Homo sapiens: one gene and its partners. The protein of the gene in region 1 interacts with the protein of each later gene in a biochemical or structural test. Each region holds a gene or a part of one and is shown in the gene's direction. Other genes may lie near its edges. The genes, in order: NFIX, SKI and PAX6.

Region 1 (3,817 bases):
CCACACAGCCTAATACAGTATTGTGACAAGGAGCATATCGTTTCTGGGACATTTACACACATACTCACGTACACATGCATACTTTTGTGCCTGCTTGCAAGAGCCCAATGGGCACAGCCAACCCTGTGTGCGTGCGCACCCCCCGCCCTGGGCACTGACACCCCCTTTAACAGACAATGCATAGCTGAGAATTGCCACAGCTTTTTGGCCCAAGAGAGCAAGAAGGTGCTGGTTGCACCTGGCAGCAGGCGGGTGTTTTGTCTCAGCAGGAGCTGCCTGGGGGCTGTAGGCACTGCCTCCCCACCCACCCTGAGGGTTACCAGAGGGCTTCCTCTCCCCTTGCTCCAGGGTCCCCAGCACTACCTCTCCCCCCAGGCCTTTATGTTCTGAAAATGAGGAGTCAGGGCCCGCAAGAGGGGCTGGAACCTCACCAAAGTGTGTGTGTGTGTGTGTACATGTACGGAGGCCCTGATGCCCAATTCTGTCCCTGACAGCTGAGCTGTGGGTCTCCTGCTATATTTGCCTATGTCGATGATCAGGGCCACATTACAAGTGTGTTGGGGGGGGGGCACGTAAGGGACATGGGTGTATGTGTGTGATCCCTGTGTGCATGGCTAGATGATTCTCCCAGGGGGGTTGTCAGCCGCCTGGGCATCAGTTGGTCAGTGTGTCCAAGGCCTGTGGGTACATCTGGGCAACCCAGTGTGTGTGTGTGTGTGTGTGTCTGTGTGTTGTGTTGTGACAGCCAGTGTTGCTTTGTATCTGTGACGCTGTGTATCTCTTTGTATTGGGGTCCTTTGCATTCACTTCCAGGTGTTTGGTGTGTGTTTATGTGACATTGTGTATCTTCCCTTCATTAGTGTCATCTTATTTATTTAGTTATTTTTTTTCAGACAGGGTCTTGCTCTGTCACCCAGGTTGGAGTGCAATGGCACTATCATGGCTCACTGCACCCTTGACCTCCCCGGGCTCAAGGGATCCCCCCACTTCAGCCTCCTAAGTAGCTGGGACCACAGGCATCCACCACCACACCCAGCTAATTTTTGTATTTTTGGTAGAGAGGGGTTTTGCCATGTTGTCCAGGCTGGTCTTGAACTCCTGAGCTCAAGCAATCCACTGGCCTCGGCCTCTCAATCATCAGTGTCATTCTGTACATCGGGGTGTACTGCCACAACTGCCAGTGTGTTCTGGCACTGCGATGTGTGTGTGTTGTGTATGTGTCTGCGTGTAGGAATTGTGTGTCTGGAAGGTGTCAGCGTGTGGCTGTGTGATCTTGCATGTGTCTGTGTTCTGCAGGAACATGCGTCAGTGTGTGTGCATCAGTGTGCATCTCTATGTGTCATGCACTGGTGTGTCTTCGTGTATATCAGTGTGTGTCTACGTGACGCCTGCTTTGGTGTATGTCTATACGCGGTTCCTTGTTGTGTGCCTGGATACCATGGTGGGACGGTGCATGTCAGAGCGTGGGTCGTGGGTGTTTTCCCAGACTGCTGTGTGTGTGTGCCCGTGTGTAGGGGTTGTGTGTCTGTGCCTTGTGTGCACTGGTGTCCGAGTGTGCTTTGTGTTCGAAGGCGGAACGTGTGGCCAGGCGTTCTGGACGTGACATGTGTGGCGGGGTCCGAGTCCCGCTGCGTGTCAGCGTGTGTCTGCGCTGGAACGCGGGCCAGCACGTGTCAGGGCGGCCGCGTCGGTGTGCGCCCCCGCGCGCGCGTGTGCGTGTGTTCGTGTGTGTGTGTGCATGTGTGTGCTTGTGTGTGTGCGCCGGCCGCCGCTCCCCCGCCCTGCCCGCCCCTCCCCGCGCCCCTCCTCCCGCCCGCGCCGCCCGCCCGCTCCCTCTCCCCGGAGTGCGCCGCTTCCAAACTTTGTCTAAACTTTCACTTTCACAGCGCGGCGGCTGCGGCGGCGGCGGCGGCGGGCGAGGGTGACCGGCCGAGCGGCGGCGGCATGGAGTAGACGCGCGGCGGCAGCGGCGGCGGCGGCGGACGCGAGAGGCAGCGGCGAGCGCGGCGGCGGCGGCGGCAGCGGCGGCCCCGGAGCCGGCGGGGCCGAGCTTGCGAGCGGCGAGCGCGGAGCGGCGCCGGGCCGAGCGCGGGGCCGCGGGCCGGGCGGGCGCAGCGCGGCGGAGGCCGGAGGAGCCGAGCCGGAGCCCGAGCCCGAGCGCGGCCGCCGCCTGCCGGGCCTCCCCTCGCCGCGGCCGGCCGCCGCGCTCCCGCCCGGGCGCCCAGCTATGTACTCCCCGTACTGCCTCACCCAGGTACCGGCCGCCGCCCCCGCGCGACCGGGGGAGGGGAGCGGGCGCGGGAGGCCGGCCGGCGGCGCGGGCGGAGGGGACGCGCGGCGGCCGGGAAGGGGGGGCCGAGAGCCCGCGGGCCGCCGAGGGGTGCAGGCTGTGCCGCGGGGAGCCCAGGCACGCGTGCGGGCGTCACCGTGCGCGTGCGACCCTGGCCACCGGGCGGACTCCTTTTGGGGGTTCCGGGGGTGGCCAGCTGCGTCGTGGCGCTGCCCGTGGAGCGCAGGCGGGAGTGCGTGTACGTGTGTGTGTGTGTGTGTGTGTGTGTGTGCGCGCTCGACTGGGGTGCGATGGGCAGCGGGACTCCGGCTGACCTGTGGGCTACTGTAGCGCGCACCCGGGCAGCGTGGTCGCTGGCAGTGTTTGCGGGGTTGACAGAGTGGCAAGAGGGTGGTCCCGAGGGCGCAGAGGGGACACTGGGTCCCGCGACGCTTCCTGGGGAGGGCGCAGCGGTTCCCGAGGGTGGCAGTGGCCGGCGTGCGTGGCGGCGGCCCTTGCGTGCGGCCGGGGTGCCTGGGGTGGGCCGAGCGGCCCGGGCGTCTCCCCAAAGTCTTTGTTTAGGCCTCACATGGGAGCGGGGCTAAGAAAATGGCGGGGCTCCCAAATTTCGGAGGGGCAGGGGAGGGGAGAGGGGGGCGGGCGCGCTGCCAGCGGTGGCCGCGCCTCTCCGACCCCGGACGTCGCAGCCTCTGCCCCCCCACCCCCAAACTTTCCTCGGCGCAAACTTTCTGGCCCCAGCGACCCGGGCTGCTGCGGAGTGGACCCGGCAGGCCTGGGGAATCCCGTCCCGTCGCCTGGAGGCGGGAGGGGCGGGAGGCAGCCGTGGACACAGCCGACAGTGCTGCGGCCACACCGTCGGGTCAGCCTCGGGCACAACAGCGCCGACCTTGGCGCGTTGCTAGAGCGCGTCCCGCCTGCAGCGAAGTTCCCTGCGCGGCGCACGGCTGCGGCAAAAGCTTCGAGGATGCCTGTCGGGCCACCCAACTCTCCCTGGGCTGTGGCCTGAGGCTCTAAGAGGGCACAGAAGCTGCCCAGAGTCCCACAGTGGCCCTGACAGCGTTGCCTGCAGGGCCAAGCCACAGCTGGTAACAGTCTCCGAAGAGGGGACATCTAGGGGCTGCTTAGCCCTGCTGCCAGCCAGGCCTGCATGTGGGGGTTCTCTAGGCCAGGCCCTAATTGTCCCCTCTGCCCAGCCTGATCCTTGTCAGCCATGTGCCAAGTGTGTCCACAGCTTACAGTGGCAGTCCACATGGGTATGGCTCCTACTTTGTCTGGGTCCTACCGGGAGTGTGCAGTGGTGTCAAGGGGCGAGGGGTTTGTCGGGGTGTGTGTCAGCTGTGGCTACACCACACTCCTGTATGCACAGGTGAGAGTGTATGCAAGTGTGAATCAATCTAGAGTCTGTGTGTAGCCCCTGTGGGCCGGCCATGGGCAGGCCTGCGTGGCATGGCCGTGTGTGTGGCCCAGGGAGCGGGTTTTCCTGTAGAAAGCAGGCCCAAGTACGTGTTGGCGAGGGCGCACCGGCAT
Region 2 (3,817 bases), on another chromosome or scaffold:
CTCGGCCTTCTGTGCCTCTCGGGAGGGTCCGCATGATTCCGGAAGGGGCTCTGCTGCAGCTAGGATGGCACCCGCCCCTGCCAGGCATAGGCACAGCACCCTGCGGTCAGGGCCTCCGCCAGACGTCATCAACACTCACTTCCCCTCGAAAGCCGCCACATAGAGGGGGTATTTTCAGTGTCTTTTTTCCTGAACAGCTATTTTAGTGTCTCTGAAAAAAACCATCCACAGCCGTGAGCCTTCAGGGGCTGCCTGCCCTGCGTCCCCGGCCCTGTGCGCCCGAGCACTTATCTTTCTCCCTTGGGCCCAGGTCAGAGCCAGGCACCTGCCCCTCCCCTGGCCCCACCCTGCTTGTTCCCTGAGGGCTGCAGGGTGGGTGCACGTGCTGCAGGGGAGGCCACGGGCTTTGGCCAGATCTTCCCCCAGGGCCCTCCATCCCCATAATTGGAGCACCTTGATGGACAGCCTGCCCTGCGCCCCATCTTCCCCCTAGGGAAGCAGGGTCCCTGCTGCCTCCAGGAGGCTGGTTCCTGATGCAGCGTCTTCTCCTAGAGTCCTGGAGGTGGGAAGAGCCCCCGGCCCTGAGTGTGCTCTGTCCACCAAGGCTTCCTGGCTGAGGGCAAGGGCGGAGCCCCCACCGCCCGACTTTGCTGCCTCCTCTTGAGGTTGGCCTCGGCAGAGTGAGTGGGACCTCACCCCTGTGAAGGGCCCCTTGCCCTGTGTGGCCTGTTCTGCATTGGCCTGTGGTGTAGACCTGGTGCCAGCTGCCCTGGAGACTCTGTGCTGTCCTGTGGGGTCTTTGGCAGTAGAGGAATGGCCCATTTTACGGAGACTGCCCTGTGATTTTGCTTGGGAAGAGACCTTGGGTCTCAGTTGTGCCTTGCGGGCAGCACCGTCTCAGGGGTTTCCAGCCGCAGGGCTGTGGGAGTTCACGTTTGCCTGAGGCTGGATGTACCGGCTCAGGCCCCCAGCACACAACCCACATCACTCACTGGCTCTTGGGGGATGTGCCTCAGCACCTGACACACAACACCTGGTTCTGAGTGGGCTGGGTCCAGGCACCTTCGCTAAGCTTCCTCCACCAGCGGGACCTGGTTCTGGGTGGGCTGGGTCTGGGCACCTTCGCTAAGCTTCCTCCAGCACCGGGGCTGGCAAGGAGCGAGGCAAAGGTGTGTGTGGTGCCATCCTGTAGGAGCCAGGCTCCTTGGGGATGGTGTCCTTCATTTTGAAAATGTTTCCTTCCCATGGGGAGGGGGCAGCCAGAATGCCCACTCTTTAATGCACCTGTGCCAGTGGCCCACAGGGACACGGTGTCCCCTCCCCGCGACCACCCCTGTGCCGCAGCTGCCCTTCCCAGACGCATCCGTCGTGAGTGGCTCTCGCCGTGCTGTGGCTGGTTGAGCTGAGTGCCCAGCGCTGGGCACCCTCTGAGGACACACTCGGGTTCTAGGAAAGGGGTTTGGCAGGAGAAGGACGAGGGACTCCTGGCCAGGCTGAGCCGCTGTGGAAGGGGAGAGTGGGTCTTGGTGCTCCATCCCAAACCTGCTGCAGCCGTGGGTGAGGTCACCCGGAATGGCAGGACAAGGTCCACTCTGTTCTCTCGGAGATGACTTGTCCCTCAGCACAGCCTCCACGTGCCTGTTGCGCGTGGCCTAAGGGCCTTTATGCAAAGTGAACTTGGTCTCCTGGGGGGTGCCCTGGAATCTGCCTTCTGCGCCACTCAGGGTCGTTTGTGGCCGGAGTGCATGGGGCTCTGACTGCCATGTGCCAGCCACGGGGCTGGTGGAGGGACCCTGCCCTGGGAACCACAGGTGCCAACAAAACCTTTCATTGATCGCAGGTCTCCTCTGAGCCTCCGGCCTCCATAAGACCCAAAACAGATGACACCTCTTCCCAGTCCCCCGCGCCTTCCGAAAAGGACAAGCCGTCCAGCTGGCTGCGGACCTTGGCCGGCTCTTCCAATAAGGTGCTGTGGGGCCTGTCGGGGTCCTTGGGGTGGTGGGTACTGGGCCCTTCTCCTTGGGCAGACCCAGCGGCTGGCAGCTCCACCTGCCCGCTACTGAGGGCTGGCACCCGGCGCAGCCTCAGGGACATGAAGTGGCTTGTTTTTCTCCTGGTCACTCACACAGACAACTCTTTCTCGACAGAGCCTGGGCTGTGTTCACCCTCGCCAGCGCCTCTCTGCTTTCCGACCCTGGTCCCCCGCAGTGTCAGCGAGTGAGAAAGAGCTCTCCCCACACCTCCCGGCCCTCATCCGAGACAGGTGAGTGGGCGCCATTCACAGGTGTTTCTGATCACGGGGGAGGCTCCACGAGGGCTGTGCATGCGGACGCGCCCATGTTTCTGCAGGCTGGGTGCCCAGACCTGCCGCCTTTTGGTCAGGGCAGTCTCGGTGTTGGTTCCTTTGGCTGGCATCAGGGAGAGCACACCTAGAGCGTTCCCTGTGTTCTGGGTGGAGTCGTGGGTGGAGCCCTGTCTGCTGGGCGCAGCTTCTTGATGTGTTGGCCTGTGTCTGGCCTTCGCAAGAGACCCAGCAAGCAGAAAACGCTTACGGGTTCTTAGGGAACTGTAAGCTTGACTTGAAGATTCGGAGCTGGGAAAGTCTTTCCTGTTTAACACCTTCAGAGGGGGTGTGCGCCAGGATGTGTCTGGGTGGTGCTTGGGGACAGAGGCACCTTCCCGACACCCGCCTGCCCCTCCAGCTTCTACTCCTACAAGAGCTTTGAGACAGCCGTGGCGCCCAACGTGGCCCTCGCACCGCCGGCCCAGCAGAAGGTTGTGAGCAGCCCTCCGTGTGCCGCCGCCGTCTCCCGGGCCCCCGAGCCTCTCGCCACTTGCACCCAGCCTCGGAAGCGGAAGCTGACTGTGGACACCCCAGGAGCCCCAGAGACGCTGGCGCCCGTGGCTGCCCCAGAGGAGGACAAGGACTCGGAGGCGGAGGTGGAAGTTGAAAGCAGGGAGGAATGTACGTGTGAGTCGCTTTCTGTGCCTCCTCCCTGTGGGCTGTGGGGGTGGCACTGGCTGAGGGGGGCTGGTCGCCGGGGGTGCGTTGGTGGCCCCATGTTTCGCAGGTTCCTCCGGGAGCGGCGCGTCTCCCTGGTGTGGAGCTGCCGGGCACTTCCATGACTTTGTTTCTGTCTCTGCTTCCTCCTCAGTCACCTCCTCCTTGTCCTCGCTCTCTTCCCCGTCCTTTACCTCATCCAGCTCCGCCAAGGACCTGGGCTCCCCGGGTGCGCGTGCCCTGCCCTCGGCCGTCCCTGATGCTGCGGCCCCTGCCGACGCCCCCAGTGGGCTGGAGGCGGAGCTGGAGCACCTGCGGCAGGCACTGGAGGGCGGCCTGGACACCAAGGAAGCCAAAGAGAAGTTCCTGCATGAGGTGGTCAAGATGCGCGTGAAGCAGGAGGAGAAGCTCAGCGCAGCCCTGCAGGCCAAGCGCAGCCTCCACCAGGTGAGCGGGGCGAGTGGTGCTGGGAGGTCCAGGGCACGGGCAGTGAGCACAGCCTGCACCAGGTGAACGGGCACAGGTGGTGCCTCCTCCCTTCCTGGCTGCCCCATGCGCTCCTCTCTGCCTCCACCTCAGTGGGCCTGCCTGGGACCTTGGGGGTCCGTCTCCCAAAAGCTGCAGCCCTGGGTATGGTGAGCCCCTCAGTGTCCCCAGGCTGATGGACATCCCAGGAGGCCACTACATTTGGCTTGACCACAGCTTTCCCCATCAGGATCACACACCCTGCGTGGTGGCCCCACTGAGGAAGTAGCCATGTTTCTCTGGTATAAGGGAGGCCGGGCTATTTTTAGTGGCAGAAAGAGTTGGGAGCAG
Region 3 (3,600 bases), on another chromosome or scaffold:
AGAAAGGTCACTGAATGCCATTCCAAAGAAAATTTAACTTGGTTCTGGTGGGAAAGTTCTTCCAAGTACAGTCAACACTAGAAGCATTTTAAAGGGAATTGGTTGGAGGTAATGGGAGTGGGGAGGTGGGAACCAGTTTGATGCACAGTTTGGTCAACATATTTTGTGTAGTTCTGGCACAATATGGAAAATCAACTTACTCTTTCAGAGTTTGAGAGAACCCATTATCCAGATGTGTTTGCCCGAGAAAGACTAGCAGCCAAAATAGATCTACCTGAAGCAAGAATACAGGTACCGAGAGACTGTGCAGTTTCACACTTTGTGATTCATACCATTTGTCTTTCCTAGAGACAGAGGTGCTTGTACAGAGTACTATTTATTTATAGGACTAATATAATAAAAAGGTTCAGTCTGCTAAATGCTCTGCTGCCATGGGCGTGGGGAGGGCAGCAGTGGAGGTGCCAAGGTGGGGCTGGGCTCGACGTAGACACAGTGCTAACCTGTCCCACCTGATTTCCAGGTATGGTTTTCTAATCGAAGGGCCAAATGGAGAAGAGAAGAAAAACTGAGGAATCAGAGAAGACAGGCCAGCAACACACCTAGTCATATTCCTATCAGCAGTAGTTTCAGCACCAGTGTCTACCAACCAATTCCACAACCCACCACACCGGGTAATTTGAAATACTAATACTACGAATCAATGTCTTTAAACCTGTTTGCTCCGGGCTCTGACTCTCACTCTGACTACTGTCATTTCTCTTGCCCTCAGTTTCCTCCTTCACATCTGGCTCCATGTTGGGCCGAACAGACACAGCCCTCACAAACACCTACAGCGCTCTGCCGCCTATGCCCAGCTTCACCATGGCAAATAACCTGCCTATGCAAGTAAGTGCGGCTGGTGGTGGCCTGCATAACCCAGGCCCCAGAGAAGTGAGGAGTGGCTCAGGGCCTGCGGACCTCATTGGCTGTGTCTGCACCCTTGAGAGCTTTTCGCACTACAGTGATTGGCTTGACCAGTCAAGTCGGAGACAGTCAATCCCATCACTTTTAAGTGATTGACTCATTAATTCATGCCCTAAAAAAATGAGTAATAAAAATCTGTCCAGTTTTGTCAGGTTGATCTGCCTTTTATTATACTGTTACCTTGATAATGTTGGGTGGTGGTGGGGCATGTTTTGGGTACCAGGGAGCCTTGCACCAGAAAGTGGAAATAATGCTGGCACATTATCAGATAGCAGATTAGTAGTTTAAAATTTGGGTTTATATTAATGTGTTTGTATGCTAAATATAGAATCTGTGCACGCATTTGGGGCATTACTTTGGGTATATGTGATAAACTAGTGAGAAAGAAAAAAGGATCAGAAATGGGATTCATATTTACATGGTGAGATATACATAATATAATGAGAATGCTAGTTTTCTGTCTGTATCTACAATAAGAAAAGGCATAGCAGGTATTTGCTGGAAATTTAGTGTGTCTTTGCTGTGAATGGTGTGACGAGTTTGTGGCCCTCCTAGCTGCCTGGGAAGCTTGATGCTATTCACTTGGTATGACAGCCTGCCTCTCCTCTTAGTTCTGTCCCAAATATCTATTAGCCCCTACATTTAGAGGTCCTGCACTAGGTTCACCCTTTATGATGTAAGTTGGATAAGGCAGATGGTTTGTACTAGACCTTTGTTGCTGGATGGATTCTTGATAGGAAAAATGTCTGTCTTCTGGTAGGCCTTTCCCAGTGGTTTTCCTAGAACTCCTGTTTGTGCAACAATTAGAGATATTAGATGGTACGATATTGGCCAGCATGAGCCTCTGCTGGAAACAGTTCTGGGGCTACACTGATTGTTTATTCTCCATTGAACATTTTTTGCTGGATTTCAAATCCAAATAACAGCAAAATAAATGTTTCACAGTCTTCAGACTAATATAGGAGCAGCTAGATAAGCAACTTCAGAGGAATTATTCACATGTTTATTTTTATTGCATCTGGATATTGTTGGCCATAGTGCAATTGATGTAAATTAAGGGATTAACAGCCCATTAGTTGGTGTTGCTATAACTGCGTTGGAATTTTCCAGAAGTCAGGTTGCCTAGAGGAACTCATTGCAGGAATTAGAAACAAATGCAAGCTGAAATTCTGGCAGGCCCTCAAGGCCTGTTTGCCTCTTTGAACTTGATGTTAGCATTCATCATCTGACTTTAATAAGGCCACAGAGTGTCTCGTTCAGTTTCATGTATTATAACAACATCCAGGTTTCTGTGAAGATAGCAAAATGTGTATGTGAGAAAATAATAAGACGAACAAGTAGATGCTGCAATTATATTAGGGCTGTTTCCACATACAGAGCGGTATGGGGAATCAATCTATTTCAAACACTGACTTTTAAAAATTACATAATTTGTATAATTCAAAAAGTACATGCATTCATTAAGCATAAAGAAAATCAAAATGATCAATAACTTTACTCTTCAGAGAAAACTACTCTTTGAATTTTGGAGTGGGTGAGCCCGATTGTCTATCCATTTATTCATTCTCTTGACCAAAATCATCATTTTACAAATGGTGGGTGTCTTCCTCTGGACCTTCTCTGATATGCTTCCCTCTCTGAGCATATGGATTTTGGAAATTAAACATTTCTCCAGTTTGCAGAGAAGAGAAATGATAGTATACTGTACTATCATCTGACCTGCTTGTTCCCGACACACTTCTTTTAATTCATCCCAAGTTTGCTGCCATGGCATAGTACCATGAGAGCTCATGAGGCGTTTTGTTAGGAGAAAGGTTTACCTCCTCAGTGCTGCCATTCCGAACAGTTCGAGGGTAGCAACAGTTTTCTAGTTATAAGTCAGTCTGGGCTTTTGGGTCTGTTAGGAAGTCATGGTTAATTCTCAGGATGGAGGTCGTTATATTTACTAACACTTCTGATCACTTTAACTTGGGGTCATTACAGATCTGCTTCTTCAAAGAATCTTTAATCCCATCAGTGAAAGGTTCCCAAGGTCCCTGAACCATACTTTACTGAGAGCTCCTCCCACTGCTCTCTGTCCCAAAGCTTGAGATATGGGCTCTGGGGGTCATAGGGTTCCCAAATAAATCCAGATTTGCAGGGAGAGGGGATGTGTTTTGATGAAGGTCCTCATGCTATAGGTTCTTCAAAGATGCTAGCAGAGGTTAGAGACAAAAATCCTATTAATTTATGGATAGTGGCAACCATCTAGCTGGACAGTTGTCAGAACCTAAAGTGCTTTAGAGGCTTGATACATAGGCAGCTTTCTTCTAGCTGTGGCCAGTGGAAGGACTAGCTCGAGGCCCAATCTTAGATTTATCATATGGAATTCCAGTACTTCACGTGAAGGCATCTTTAATGATCAGACTTGTTGGCAGAGTTCCTCGGGAGGAGGGAGCCTGGGGCTGTGGCTGTGTGATGTGTTCCTCAGTAACCACAGGTTTGCCTCTCTCCTCACAGCCCCCAGTCCCCAGCCAGACCTCCTCATACTCCTGCATGCTGCCCACCAGCCCTTCGGTGAATGGGCGGAGTTATGATACCTACACCCCCCCACATATGCAGACACACATGAACAGTCAGCCAATGGGCACCTCGGGC

What was found.
Region 2: the proteins of NFIX (region 1) and SKI form a complex in vitro, tested with the Homo sapiens proteins (one study listed by BioGRID).
Region 3: the proteins of NFIX (region 1) and PAX6 form a complex in vitro, tested with the Homo sapiens proteins (one study listed by BioGRID).

What each region holds. Positions count from the first base shown.
Region 1 is NC_000019.10:12,993,611-12,997,427, forward strand, and holds the start of NFIX (nuclear factor 1 X-type), read left to right. Parts: upstream 1-1,864; 5' UTR 1,865-2,227; coding exon 2,228-2,254; intron 2,255-3,817.
Region 2 is NC_000001.11:2,301,138-2,304,954, forward strand, and holds part of SKI (ski oncogene), read left to right. Parts: intron 1-1,840; coding exon 1,841-1,966; intron 1,967-2,147; coding exon 2,148-2,263; intron 2,264-2,702; coding exon 2,703-2,965; coding exon of another isoform or gene 2,966-2,971; intron 2,972-3,155; coding exon 3,156-3,448; intron 3,449-3,817. UniProt on the Homo sapiens protein: May play a role in terminal differentiation of skeletal muscle cells but not in the determination of cells to the myogenic lineage. Functions as a repressor of TGF-beta signaling.
Region 3 is NC_000011.10:31,790,723-31,794,322, reverse strand, and holds part of PAX6 (paired box protein Pax-6), read left to right. Parts: intron 1-208; coding exon 209-291; intron 292-520; coding exon 521-671; intron 672-769; coding exon 770-885; coding exon of another isoform or gene 886-1,059; exon of another isoform or gene 1,060-1,118; intron 1,119-3,462; coding exon 3,463-3,600. UniProt on the Homo sapiens protein: Transcription factor with important functions in the development of the eye, nose, central nervous system and pancreas. Required for the differentiation of pancreatic islet alpha cells.